Linked DNA regions of Homo sapiens. The protein of the gene in region 1 purifies or fractionates together with the protein of each later gene. This does not show direct contact. Each region holds a gene or a part of one and is shown in the gene's direction. Other genes may lie near its edges. The genes, in order: WWTR1 and AMOTL1.

Region 1 (7,279 bases):
GGGCTGGAAGAGATCTAACGAAGATACTGTAATTTAGAAGTCCTAAATGTTCTGTTTGCCATTGTAGCCATGGTTTTAGGGTTTGAGGGACAGTGAGACCAATGACTTCAGCATGGAAAGTGGGAAACTGATAGGCATAAATATGGGGAAAGGCCTAACCTTGGTTTGGGATGCAAATGTAAACATACAAAAGTATTCTCTGGAAACATCAGCAAATTTGAAAGGAATTTGATGTCTGGTTATGTTTGTCAAGATGGAGAGACTCCTGGAGATTATACCTAGAGAAAGTAGTTGCAGTCAGTAAATTTGTAGCCTTTTGGATAGACTCTTCTTAGCAATGTAATGCTAGCTTTTATAAAATAATGCTTGTATTATTTGTTTCTGCTAATGAAATCCATATGCTGTGAAACAGTTACTTGTCTGTGGGATTTGGATTGGATCTACATGGTTCCCCAACCTTCAGCATTTTAGTCAACAAAGTAGTCAAATAGATTGACTTTTTTGTTTTTTTGTTTTTTTTGAGACAGCGTCTCACTCTGTCACCCAGGCTGGAGTACAGTGTCGTGATCTCTGCTCACTTTAGTCTCAACCTCCCAGGCACAGGGCTCCTCCTGCCTCAGCCTCCCAAGTAGCACCACACCCAACTAATTTTTGTATTTTTTGTAGAGACAGGGTTTCACCATGTTGCAGGCTGGTCTCGAACTTGTGGGCTCCAGTGATCCGCCCACCTCGACCTCCCAAAGTGCTGGGATTATGGACGTGAGCCACCACCCCTGGCCACTGATTGACTTTTTAAAGTAAACTTTCAACTCATTGTTTTGCTTTCCTGTCTGTAAACATAAAACTGCCAGATGCAATTTAATGTAGAGCCTGGACTCTGTAATTCCACAGTTTTACTGGCCTGTAAGTGGCAAAGACCAGAATGTACTTTATAGTCCAGAGGAGTCTGATTGCTTTGATTGATGTAGATTTGGTTTGAGAACCTGAGATAGAAAAAGCCTTGTCTCTGACAAAGTGTTTTGAGAGGGCTTTCTATGATTTGGGTGTTTAAATAATTGCATGGGTGGGATGATTGCAACATTAAGTGCCCTTAGATCAAATAATAGCTGAGCTTCCCATTAACTTTGTGAATGTGAAGTGACTTATGTCTGTAAGACTTTCTTCGGAGAAAGAATACTAATGGTTGCCTGGTGATTTTGACTTGCTGGGAGTAAATACACAGTGCTTTGTATTTGGTGAAAAGTTTTGATGTGAAGTACACTTTGCTCCATGCCTTGTGACAATGAGTGCATGACTCTTGCTTCCCATTCTGACTGTAGGAAGCTGCCCTCTGTCGACAGCTCCCCATGGAAGCTGAGACTCTTGCCCCAGTTCAGGCTGCTGTCAACCCACCCACGATGACCCCAGACATGAGATCCATCACTAATAATAGCTCAGATCCTTTCCTCAATGGGTAAGTTAATATTTGGGGGCCACTTATTTTTATTCTCTTTATTATGTGATCTAGACTATAATAGGATCTTTGTTTACATTGGGAAGAGGTGGGGAGCTTGAGGGTTGAGGGTGAGAATAAAGGGAGGAAGTGGGAGGAGCTGGCAGAAAAAAGAAAAGCAGGGGAAATCATCTGCCTGTTAAAAAATTTCCAAATTAAAAAATTGGTGATAGGACGTAGAGTAAACCCCTAGTCAAGAATTTGAAAATGGGCATGAACTTATATTTTTAAACATGATGGTGTCGTCTAGTACTTATACTTGGAAGAATCTTCTGGTTTTATGTAACCAACAGGGGATAAAAGCATGCCATATGGCAAATTGAGAACAGAACAATTAAGAGATTATGTTCGGCCAGGCATGGTGGCTCATGCCTATAATCCCAGCACTTTGGGAGGCCGAGGTGGGCAGATCACCTGAGGTTGGGAGTTCGAGACCAGCCTGACCAACATGGAGAAACCCTGTCTCTTCTAAAAATACAAAATTAGCAGGGCATGGTGGTGCATGCCTGTAATCCCAGCTACTCGGGAGGCTGAGAATTGCTTGAACCTGGGAGGCGGAGGTTGCAGTGAGCCGAGATTGCACCATTGCACTCCAGCCTTGGCAACAAGAGTGAAACTCCATCTCAAAAAAAAAAAAAAGAAAGAAAAGAAAAGAGATGATGTTCAGGGTGAAATGTGAATAAGATCTATAGTTTAGTAAATAATATTCTACAGTGTCAGATTTCTGATTTTGGTAATTGCACTATGGTTATGTAAGATGTTATCACTGGGGAAGCTGGTGAAGGGTACATGGGAACGCTCTGTACTCTTGTTGCGTCTTCTATGTGAGTTTAAAATAATTTCACAATTTAAAAAGTAATTAAAACAAAGGAGCAAAAGGGAAAGAGAATTTAGCCAGAAATATCTTCATGAGCAGAAGTAGTTTTTAAATCAAATAAAAAGGGCAATTCTGTATTTCCTGTGCCTTTTATTCTGCCCTTGCAGAGACGTCTGGCAAACAAACAATACAATTATGAACATTATTAAAGATAGAGATAAAAACAAATAGTAGCTGAAATAATAATTAATGGAGGTTTTAAATTGTTGATTTTAAAGTATTTGAAACACAGAGAAGTACAAAGAATAACATGAATTACCCATGTACCCACTACCCAGATTTGCCATAGTTTTATTTAATCTTACTTTTTAACAAATAAAATATTACAATTAATATTTGAAGCCATCCCCCCACCACTGAAATCTCGTTTCTTTTCCCTTCTGTCCCCAGTGGTAGCCACTATTCAGAAACTGGCGTGTGTCCATCACACAGACTTTTATACCCCTTACTGCCCGTTAGTGTATGTATCCATAAGCAATATTCAACATAGTTTTTGTTTTTTTTTTTTAAAGTTTTACATAAATGGTGTCATACTCTGTATGTTGAAGAATGTTCAAATGGTTATTTTGAGGTGAAAAGGAAATCAATGTCAATTTACTGTGAATGGCCACACATGATTATTTTCATTTTCATGAGGGTATGTATTTCAAAATTAAAACTTTCCTTCCTCCCTAACCTGGAAAGTTGGGCAGCATGGCACAACTGCACTAGTTTAGAGCTTTTGTGACTGTGTTTTAATTTTGAGATTTATTTAGTGGGCTCATATTGAAGTTTCTTCATCTTTTGCTTTGCAGAGGGCCATATCATTCGAGGGAGCAGAGCACTGACAGTGGCCTGGGGTTAGGGTGCTACAGTGTCCCCACAACTCCGGAGGACTTCCTCAGCAATGTGGATGAGATGGATACAGGTAGGAGCAAAGCCTGCAAGCACTTACAATGGGTTTGTGTTTTTTAAATGATCTCTTCGGTTATCTCAATTTTATTTTTCTTTTATTTTATTTTTATAATTTCAACTTTTATTTTATATTTGGGGGTACATGTGCAGGTTTGCTACATGGTTATGTGATGCCGGGGTTTGGGATACGATTGCTCTCGTCACCCAGGTAGTGAGCATAGTACCCAATAGTTTGTTTTTCACCCCTTGTTCCTCCCCACTCCCAGTAGTCCCGAGTGTCTGTAAAAATGTTGAAAAAAAAAAAAATGGAATGCTTCATGAATTTACATGTCATTCTCATGCAGGGGCCATGCTAATCATTCCAGTTTTAGTATAGGTGCTGCCAGAGCGAGTACGGTCATCTCAATTTTAAAATCCAACCAGAAACACTCAATCTCAACGACAACATAAAATAACAGCTGAAAAGCCACTGAACCCCCAGGCACTATTAATAAACTGTAGCCCCTTCCTCATAGATTATACAAGTATAGTTTTACATCTGGGCGCAGGATTTTAAATTCTGTTGTTTTTTTTTTTTAATTCATCTTTGCTCCATATAGTCCCTTCCTCACAATTGCATCAAGACACCACTGTTTGTTTGCCATGTTTCCACATTGGGGTATTTATGCTGTTCTAGTTTTTAGTTGTAATATATGGGCCACCCTTTCTCCTGGAAAGTGACACTGGTTTATAGTTCTAGTATCCAATTTTTTTCATGTCATTCACTGCATTTGAAAAGCAATTGGCAGTGGGTATTTGGAATGCTGAGCAACTCAGAGGATTCAAAATTGTCACTTCCAAGTTCCAACATGGTAACGACATCCTCCCTCAGGAATTAAAGAGAAGAGAGTCAGGGTTACTCTTACCTTGTCCCCAGCCTGTGCATCCTTCAGGTCCAGCCTCACCAGGCTTCCCGATTACCTTTCTTTTTCTCCTTTTCTCAAGGAGTGAGACTTCCAATTGCAGAAACTGAAGTTAGTCTTATTAGCCTTACCTAGACTTAATTATGAAAGTCATAAACTCTAAGAAGATATTCTAGAACCAAAAATAAATGACAGCCAGGGTGTCCACTATTTGGAGTTATTCATGAAAGTTCCTTCTCCATTATCATTGACGAAAGTAATTGTTTTGTGTTGAAAATAAAAAATTCCTTCCCCCAAAGTGTTTGCCATAGTGCCTGTAGTTTTTTACACTCTACTCTTTGATGGCTTCTCTTTGTGTTGTGAGTCTAAATTGTTGGAAAGATCAAGAGTCAAACTCATAGCCAGGTGTCTTACAAATGCAGTACATTAAAGCTGCTCCCCTGGCGTCTTTCGTGTAGGTTGTCATCTTTGCATTGAGAAGATTGCAAAGACTATCTTGTGAGGAGTGACACAGGAATAGTTTGCACTGATTGTTTTACTGTTCTTCAGTTTATTACTTCAGTTCTTCCCCCACCACCACCCCCTGCCACCTTTATCTCTCTCTCTGCTTTTTGAGTGTGAGATTTATTTTGCTATCTTTGGAATAGCCTTAGGAAGTGGCTCCTTCCTATGTTTAATAATTCTTTACTTTCATCTTCTAAACACTGGGAAGCCAGTAAGGATAAAAAGCAAAGTTAAGGAAAAAAGCTCAGGAGATCTAAATCTAAGTTTGACATTCAAAAAAAAAAAAAAAAAACCATAAAAGAGGATGGATTCTACTCTATGTCTCTTTAAAATAACCTCAAGTGGGTAAGTAGGGAGTGTTTTATTTTGAAGCCGTAATGTGGAATTAAATGACGTCCTGAAAAGAACATAGTTTTAGCCAACAGGCAGCCTGATTTGAATCCTTGCTTCTCCATTCCTAGTAGCGCCTTTGGGTAAGTTGCATAACCTCCGTGAGCCTCAGATTTCTCACCCATAAAGTGGGAGTGATATGCTCACGGCAGAGTTGTGAGGAGTCATGAGATCACAGAGACCAGCTCAAAGTGCTCTTCTCCAGTAAGAAGACTGATGTCATACATACAATGGACTTGATAATGTCAGAGTGCCACGTTAACCTGGTTAAGTGAGAATCAGCTCATTGAGTGTGGGAATGTGAGTGCCAAGTTAACCTGGTTAAGTTAGAGTCAGCTCATTGAGTGTGGGGCCACCTCTGTGAAGTCTTTGTAGGAACTGGACATACATCTTCTCAAGGGGAGAAATGTTAATTATACAGTAGCAAAATGAGGGAAGCTGTGGGGGCAGGCAGAGCTCAAGTGTGGCTAGAAAAGATCTATCAGGCCTGTGGACCACGCGCTGGCCACATGCTGAAGGGAAACGAGCCAGCTGAGCACTCCATTTGCAAAACATACATGGCAGCAACAGCTGGGCTTGGTGCGAAGATCCAGTAAAGGGAATAACATGAGCAAAGGCTGGGAAATCATCCATCCTTCCAGAATATTCTGCAGTAATCACACCCTTTTAAGAATTGCCTTGTGGCTGGGCACGGTGGTTCACACCTGTAATCCCAGCACTTTGGTAGGCCGAGGTGGGTGGATCACCTGAGGTTGGGAGTTCAAGACCAGCCTGACCAACATGGAGAAATCTTGTGTCTACTAAGAATACAAAATTAGCTGGGCGTGGTGGCACATGCCTGTGATCCCAGCCACTCGGGAAGCTGAGGCAGGAGAATCACTTGAACCCAGGAGGCGGAGGTTGCAGTGAGCCGAGATTGTGCCATTGCACTCTAGCTTGGGCAGCAAGAGCGAAACTCCATCTCAAAAAAAAAAAAAAGAATTGCCTTGTGTTTGTCTCTTCCACTTTTTAAGTGGATAAACTGCAAAGACCAAAAAGATTACTATGAGATTGCAGAGCTGCTTCTATTTTAAGATTGTTAACTTTAATGAAGAAGCTTAGCCAGTATCCTCATGCCTTCCATCCTGAGAAGAAAGGATAAGAGTAATTTTTTTTTTTTTTTTTAATACGGGGTCTCATTCTGTCACCCAGGCTGGAGTGCAGTGGTGTGATCTCAGCTCATTGCAACCTCTACCTCCTGGATTCAAACGAGTCTCGGGCCTCAGCCTCCTGAGTAGCTGGGATTACAGGGGTGCGCCACCATGCCTGGCACTGTTTTTTTGGGGTTTTTTTGTTTGTTTGTTTGTTGTATTTTTAGTAGAGACAGGGTTTCACCATGTTGGCAAGGCTGTTCTTGAACTCCTGACCTCAGGTGATCCACCCACCTCGGCCTCCCAAAGTGCTGGGATTACAGGCATGAGCCACCACACCCGGCCTAGGAATTCTTTAAAACAGAGATTTTGCTTGGCTAAAAATTATATTCTTGAGTATCTGAAAGTTAAAATGGGAAATTAGTAAAAATGAATGATTCTAACTGGAGATGAAGAGAAAAAAAGGCATCCAGCACATTAGATCAGATTGTTTTTTAGACACTTTTTAAAGCCTCATTTTTATCTGTTACACTCTAGTAAGTAGAAGAAAGTTATTTTGGATTTTGTTTTTTCGTTTAACGTTATTTTTCAATATCAGTAACACTATATTGAGGTCATATTGTTGAATTTGATTTAATTTTTCAGTTTACTACCCTTTGCAATGAAAATACTGTAAAATGTTACCCAGGAGTCATTTATATTTTGTGACTTCTAGAAAAGCCATTGTGTTTTGCTATCACCAAAATCCAAATTGGATGATGGTTCCTTCATCATTTGGAAGGATATAATTTTTCTCCCTGGAAAACACAGATTGCTAAAGTGAACTTTCGGCAATTTTGCTTAAAATAGTGAAACTTCCCTACACACGTTTCAGGAAGGCTACTGCACTTGTAACACACAAAAGATAATTTAACAAGTTTTTAAAAAATGACGTTATGGTGGAAGCTGGCCTTAGTTATCAATGCTTCTCAATTTTTGAAGTAGATATTATCTCTTCAGAAAATTGTTTGGGACTTTTTGAATTAACCTGTTGTTTTGATATTGTGTAATTAATAGTGGCTGAAGACCTGGGTTTTTCTTTCTCTCAGGA
Region 2 (7,279 bases), on another chromosome or scaffold:
GATGGAACAATGTTTAAGAGGAAGCAGAGGAGAGGGAGTGCAGAATAGTAGACTCGCTTTGAATTGGAGAAGAAAATTCCATGAGACATTGCCAGGTAAATGGAGGTGATGATGCATTTGAAATCTTATTTTTAAATGTTGCTGTAGTTAGAATGTTAATTATGTACCACATAGTCACAGACATATATCTCCTGTGGAGCTGCCTGATATCTTTTTTCCTATGTTTATCTTTTAGTTGAAGATCCTCTTTGTAACTTCCACTCCCCAAACTTCCTGAGGATCTCAGAGGTGGAAATGAGAGGTTCCGAGGATGCGGCAGCTGGAACAGTATTGCAGCGGCTGATCCAGGAACAACTGCGGTATGGCACCCCAACCGAGAACATGAACTTGCTGGCCATTCAGCACCAGGCCACAGGGAGTGCAGGACCAGCCCATCCTACAAACAACTTTTCTTCCACGGAAAACCTCACTCAAGAAGACCCACAAATGGTCTACCAGTCAGCACGCCAAGAACCGCAGGGTCAAGAACACCAGGTGGACAATACGGTGATGGAGAAACAGGTCCGGTCCACGCAGCCTCAGCAGAACAACGAGGAACTGCCCACTTACGAGGAGGCCAAAGCACAGTCGCAGTTCTTCAGGGGGCAGCAGCAGCAGCAACAGCAGCAGGGGGCGGTGGGCCATGGTTACTACATGGCAGGGGGCACCAGTCAGAAGTCCCGAACTGAGGGGAGGCCCACTGTGAACCGTGCCAACAGTGGACAGGCGCATAAGGACGAGGCGCTGAAGGAACTGAAGCAGGGCCACGTCCGCTCGCTCAGCGAGAGAATCATGCAGCTGTCCCTGGAGAGGAATGGGGCCAAGCAACACCTTCCCGGCTCGGGGAATGGAAAGGGCTTCAAAGTAGGAGGGGGGCCCTCCCCTGCCCAGCCTGCAGGTAAAGTGCTGGACCCTCGGGGTCCTCCACCTGAGTACCCCTTCAAGACCAAGCAAATGATGTCCCCAGTCAGCAAGACCCAGGAGCACGGACTTTTTTATGGTGACCAGCACCCCGGGATGCTCCACGAGATGGTCAAGCCCTACCCTGCTCCTCAGCCTGTGAGAACAGATGTGGCCGTCCTGCGGTACCAGCCACCCCCTGAGTATGGGGTAACGAGGTGATTATCAACTGCAGACGTTTCGTGCGGCTTTTCAAAATTCAATAGTCATGTTATTAGCATTTATTATTTTCAGAGCAGATTAGGTTTTTGTCATCAGGCTTTTTTCCTTATGCATGATATTTAATAAACCACTTTGTGGCCAGAATATATAGGGTGAAATAGAGTAGAGGGCAACTGAGGGATTTTCTCCAAACATAGCAGCAGGCAGTTGGGGATTTATGAGTTTAGGGGAGGGACCTCACTTGTTAGCTGTCCTTGGGAGCTCTGCCTAGTGGCCTGGCAAAGTAGCAATTTTCCAATGGCTTTGTGGAGACCGTCCAAACTCCTGGAACATATTATTACCAGAGGGTTTTATAGTCTTTTTTCATTGTAGATTTTAAAGGAAAATGTAGTCTGAATGCTAGAATGGAGGAGTTAAAGGGACTGTAGAAATCACATAGTCCCATCCCTCACTCAACAGATGAGAAACTAAAGCCTGGAGAGATTAATGAATTTCATAGACACAACTCTGAGGCAGCTGGGGGCTACACTCAAGTATCCTGACTGCCAAAATCTATTCACTCCCTTGCCCTAATTCTTCCTACAGCCTTCACTTGTATTCTTCCAGTTGATTGATGGATTCAGCAGCACCTACTGAGTGTATGCTGTACTCTGAAGCCCTGTTCCTGGTTCAGAGATGGGGTCCCTGCCCTTCAGGACCCTATAGCATTGTCTTGGAGGAAACCAGCATCTGAACAGATCATTGCCATTCAATGTGCTGTTCTAGGAGAGAAATGGGCCGAGGATGCTAGGGTAACAGGTAGGATAGTATAACTCACAACTGGAGGGGCTGGAGAGAGCTTCCCAGAGGAGGTGACATTTGAGTTGGAACTTGAAGGATAAATCAGAGTTGTAGGGTAGAGATGAAGTAGCAGTATGTGCTGTGTGAGGGAGTGCCGTGTCTTCAGACAAAGAGGTCATGAGGATTTTTGTCTGGAATGAGTGGCAATAATGCAGAGCACTGGTGGGCAAGGGTGTGGTAAGAAGTGACAGGAGATATGTTTGGACAGGGAAGTTGGGACCCGTTTGGTTGAGGTATGTTTGGACAGGGAAGTTGATGATGACGGTCTCTGGGTGTCGTATTAAGGAGTTTAGAATGTATCCATAAGCAATCGGGAAAAGCGGTGTTCTTAGGTAGGGATGGTAAGTGGATGTCTAACAGCTGATTTTGGTGGCAGTGCATGAATTAGAGGAAAGGGAGCCCCACGCCACAAGGAGCTCCAGGGATGCTTTCAGTAGTCCAGATCAGAATTGGTGAGGGTGGCCAAAGCTTGGGCAGGGAGAATAGAGGAGCATTATGTGCTAAGAGAGGTAGGGAAATAGAACTGACAGGGTTTAGGGATTGGTTAGATACAGAAATTCTGGAATAGGGATGATGGAAATAAGGGAATTACGAATCAAACTCTCAGGAGAGAAATTGGGTCTGAAGATCACACTTTGGGAGTCAGAAATGTTTAGATGTTGCTGACATTGAAGGAGGGGCAGGGAACATGAACAGAAAAGACATGTGGCCACTGCCTATTATTGGATGTGTCATTTTCATGAAGGGCTTTATTATCTGTTTCTAAATTGAACAAGCCAGGGTTTTCCCAAGCGACCTCAGTGGCTATGTGCAGGACATACCTTGGCTGTACATCTTCTGAAAAAGGAGAGGCTGGAGGTTGGCAGAGGGAGAGTGGCCTGATCTGCCACTGGCTTCCCAGCACTGACACATTTCCCCACATTAGACTGAGAATGCCAGCTCAGAAGCAGCATAACCAACTGTGAGATCTTGGCCAGGCAGGAGAACGCATTCTCCCTAAGTGGGCATAACCGGACTCCTCCCAGGAATCCAAGATGGGATCCAGGAGGCTCTTCTTCCCCCTTTATAGCTCCTTGATCAAATCCCTGGTATTTGCATCACAGTGATTTACCACAGTTGTTTAAAATAAGCCATGATGTTATTCCACCATCATACCAGAGTTTGGCTTATTATATTTCACCCTTTTCCCTGATAACTTAACTCAGCCTCTAGAGCTTGATAGAGGGGAAGCTATCCTGAAATGAAATCCCCTTCCTCTTCTTTGCTTTACTATTTGTAAAGTAATATGTACATACCGTGCAATGCATACAGTGGATCACTTTGCCTTTTGTCATTTGGTAATAGGTGTGATGTGAGGTGGGAGAAATGGTCAGGGGAGGAGGGGAACACTTTTGGAGGTCATTTTTCTCAAAGTTATGACGTTAGAAAGAAGAAGAAATGTGTGAGGGATTTGAGCTGACTGCCAGGCTTGGCAGCTGGTTAATATGACGCATCAAATGTCTCAGGAGACGTAACAGACAGGCCATTGAGGCTGGGTCCCAGAGCCACAAGGCCCCTTTGTGAACAGGGCCATGGCTAGCCAGCATGGCTCCAGTGGTGCAGCCCTTGGCTGACTGGGTAAACAATATTGCATCCACACCAGCCCTGCTTCAGACACATTTAACGTGGCCTGAACTCGAAGGATTGGACCTGAAACTCAGCAGTGTGTCATGTTCAACTTGCCTGTGACCCAGAAGACAAGTAGGGCCCCTTTCATTTCACTGACACATTATCTTGTGCTTAAAGGGTTATCTGTTTGTCATTGATCGTGATGGTTTAGGAAGCTGCAGGCCATTGTGTACATACGTACAACCACATAGACTCTTGGACTAGAAAGAGACGCCTCTGATGGAGATCATGGAGTCCATCTCCCTGGCTGGTGCCCATACTGGTGGGCTCAGTATGTAATGAGTACTCAGTAGTTTGGTCCAACCCATTACATTGTTGAGACTTCACTCCTTTTTGCCTAGAGGTAGAAAGCTCCAAAGAGACAAGTGATAGAACTTATGAGAAGAATAAGAATTTGAGTTTTTTGTGATCACTCTTGACTCACCATAGCTTACAAATTCTCTCACCTGCTCTGATGCGCCCTAAAGATGGAGATGTCTGGTAGGTGATTATAAGGCCCTTTAGGCCCCTTTCCTGGGAACCCTCTGGGAGATGAGGCCTTGACCTCGTTGACTTGACCCACCTTGGCCCATGTGGGTGAGCTACTGTGGCTGGTGGGGATGGGAGTGCTAAGGCAGCAGGGGCCTGCAGGGAACATGTGTTGGCTAGGGATGAAGGCTCTGGTTTTCCTCTTGTTCTACTATACTTTTTCCTCAACCTGAAAGTGTAAATGGATAAGAATGAGGACAAGATGGGAATTAAACAGGTTGTTACTGTGGAGAATTGTGACCACTCCCAACCCCCCAAGCAAAGGCAAGCATTTGGATATTACTTATGACTCTTTGTGGAAACAGACCACTTCTAGAAGTAGTGACTTGGCTTATGCAATCTGCACTGTTAATGGAAATGAATGCATGAATGAATACCAAGGGATGATCTAATTTTTATCAAAGCAGTTTGGAGTATATTAGTCAACATGCATATTTGTTTTCCAAAGAAATCCATATTTCAAAACATTTGGGAACTAGAGATGCTAAAAAAATTACTTAAAATATCCTACTTTCCTAATACACCCACTAACATTTTTCCTGTACAAATTAATTTTTTCACATTATAATGATAAATTATATTGTTTAGTATCCTCGCTTTTGAAAGATAGCATTGTATCACAAGCTTTTTTCCACAATCCTTTATTTTTTCAAAACCAACATTTTTATTGCTGTATAATATTTCATAAAGTATACCATTTACACCATTTTCTCCATGATAGAGCGAACATCATCATGCATATCAAATTATCTATGTTTTGGCTTCCTTAGGAATCATTATTTAGAAATGAAATTATTGGGTAAATTATAATAAACATTTAAAAGCTTCTGATGCCAGAAAACCTTGTAAAAATATTACGGTGCCTGTTTTACTGCACTTTGACCAACGTTAGTTATTACATCATTATAATTGCAAAATCTTTGCTAATTTAATAGGCAAATAGTGTTTTGTTGTTGTTGTCTTGAGATGCCTGTCGCTCAGGCTGGAGTGCAGCAGTGCAGTCACAGCTCACTGCAACCTCTGCCTCCCAAGCTCAAGTGATCCTCCCATCATAGTCTCCCCAGTAGCTGCGATTACAGGCATGTGCCACCGTGCCCAACTATTTTTGTAATTCTTTTTTGGTAGAGTTGGGGTTTCACTATGTTGGCAAGGCTGGTCTTGAACTCCTGGGCTCAAGCAGTCTACTCACCTTGGCCTCCCAAAGTGTTAAGATTACAGGTGAACACTGCACCCTGCCTGCAAATAGTCTTAACTTCCTATTTGAATTTGTTATAACTGGCTAGGTTAATTTTGTGGGGAAGGGAGTATGTTTTGCTATTTAGACTTAGTTGATCTCAAAAATAGGCTTTTTGTGTTTCTTGTTCCTAAGACTTATATATTATAATGGACTCAGCATAAACTAAAATCTGTTTTTTCTAACACTTGCTCTCATTGTCCATTTTCTAGAACTCTGTCTTCACCCTTAGCAGGTGAGAATGGAGTAGTTGTGGTGGTGGTAGTCATAGCAGGAGGGTGAAACCTTCACCGAATGCTGACTGTGTGCCAGGCACTTTGTGTGGGTTACTTATCTTCCTTAATCTTTACAACTCTAAAGGGTGGGTACTATTATTATCACAATTTTTACATACAATAAAAACTTAGGCTTAGAGAGGGAGGTTAACTAACTTGATCAAAGCCAGCAGCTTGCAAGTGCAGGAGCCAGGTGCAGACCTGGAATGCTTTGCTGCACACTGCGTCTCCCACGAGTGTAAACACTTGGCCACTGTACTTTGCAGTGGAGCCGCAGATTTAAGCTTTCACTTGGGGTCACTAAATCTGGTGAATTTCTAATCAGATTTATAGAATATATCACATGTGATGTCCAGCCTGTGCTCTGCCCACCTTCTGTTTTTTTCAACAGGACCAGAATTCTGGTGAAGTATTCTAGACTCTAGGAAGAAAGCTGTCTGGATACCTCTTTTTCTTCAGATATCTGGGAAGACTGTCACAGACCAGACTTAATGGGGCTGACAGCTGTGGGTGTGGGCTTTCGTCTGTCTTTTGGTTTGCTTTCATTTGGAGGTGCTTTCATTCCTAGGGTGAGGGTTGTGGGTTTTCTTTAGATATTTTTATTAGAATGTTTCCATTATGGAAGATGATGAATACTAACTTAAGACTAATTTGTATGTTTTAGGCAGTATCCATTTGGAAAAAGACTAAGAATGACTCCTGTCAATGAAAAGAACACTTAAGGCTCTGTTTCTACTCTCTCAGCCTGTACATTGCCTTTTTGGCCTTTATCTTGGCTCAATCTTGTCTGTTCAGCATAGGGGATTTGATTTACTAGCTTCCGGGAAGTGGAGAGAAGAGTGGTAACTGTTTATTAATATTTTGTTCATCTATGAGTACGTTAATTTGATTTTTTGGTATGTAGATAGATATTTTATAAAAGCATGACATGGTAGTGTTTGGCCCAGCCCTCCCATCCTAGGTTGATGAAAATATAAGATGATGTCAAAGCCAGAGGAGCTGTGGATTTCCTGTCGTAAAGCAGACTTCTTGCCTTGTCCCAGGACAGCCATCACCACCACCTTCTTTCTCATCAGGGCAGGGGGCTTGCAGTGTCATACATTAAGTGAGGGAACCTGTGGTATGACCTATTCCCCAAATCACTATTTTCCTTTAAAAAAATGCATTATGCATTTTCCCCCAGAAAACCTGATTTCTTTTCATTGAGGATAGAGTCAGAGGCACTGACATTCTCTGGGTACATGCCCACTGACAGTGCAGGGAGGAGGGACAAGTAAAGTGGGGGCAGCCCAAGAGTACATTTGGCAAATTAAAGATAACGCCTGTCCTCAGGGAACCCTGTCAGCCCAGCAGTGCAGCAAGTCCAGTCTAAACATGAACAAGCATGAAGATATTTGCTAAATCACAGGCCTTACTCCTAGTGGGCTCTGTGTTTGGAATGTGCCATATTACAAGAAAGAAGGTTTGATGGTCCTGTCTTACTTTGTGTTGGACATGGCTGGAGGAGGGAGGAGAATCTTGGGAGTAAGTATGTGTTTCCAAAATGGGGAATTATGATTTGCAGTTTATGCAA

Evidence for each region.
Region 2: the proteins of WWTR1 (region 1) and AMOTL1 purify together in Homo sapiens (affinity purification with mass spectrometry; 2 studies listed by BioGRID and IntAct, with this or other methods). This does not show direct contact.

What each region holds. Positions count from the first base shown.
Region 1 is NC_000003.12:149,522,010-149,529,288, reverse strand, and holds part of WWTR1 (WW domain-containing transcription regulator protein 1), read left to right. Parts: intron 1-1,319; coding exon 1,320-1,453; intron 1,454-3,163; coding exon 3,164-3,276; intron 3,277-7,279. UniProt on the Homo sapiens protein: Transcriptional coactivator which acts as a downstream regulatory target in the Hippo signaling pathway that plays a pivotal role in organ size control and tumor suppression by restricting proliferation and promoting apoptosis.
Region 2 is NC_000011.10:94,799,155-94,806,433, forward strand, and holds part of AMOTL1 (angiomotin-like protein 1), read left to right. Parts: intron 1-235; coding exon 236-1,157; intron 1,158-1,184; exon of another isoform or gene 1,185-7,279. UniProt on the Homo sapiens protein: Inhibits the Wnt/beta-catenin signaling pathway, probably by recruiting CTNNB1 to recycling endosomes and hence preventing its translocation to the nucleus.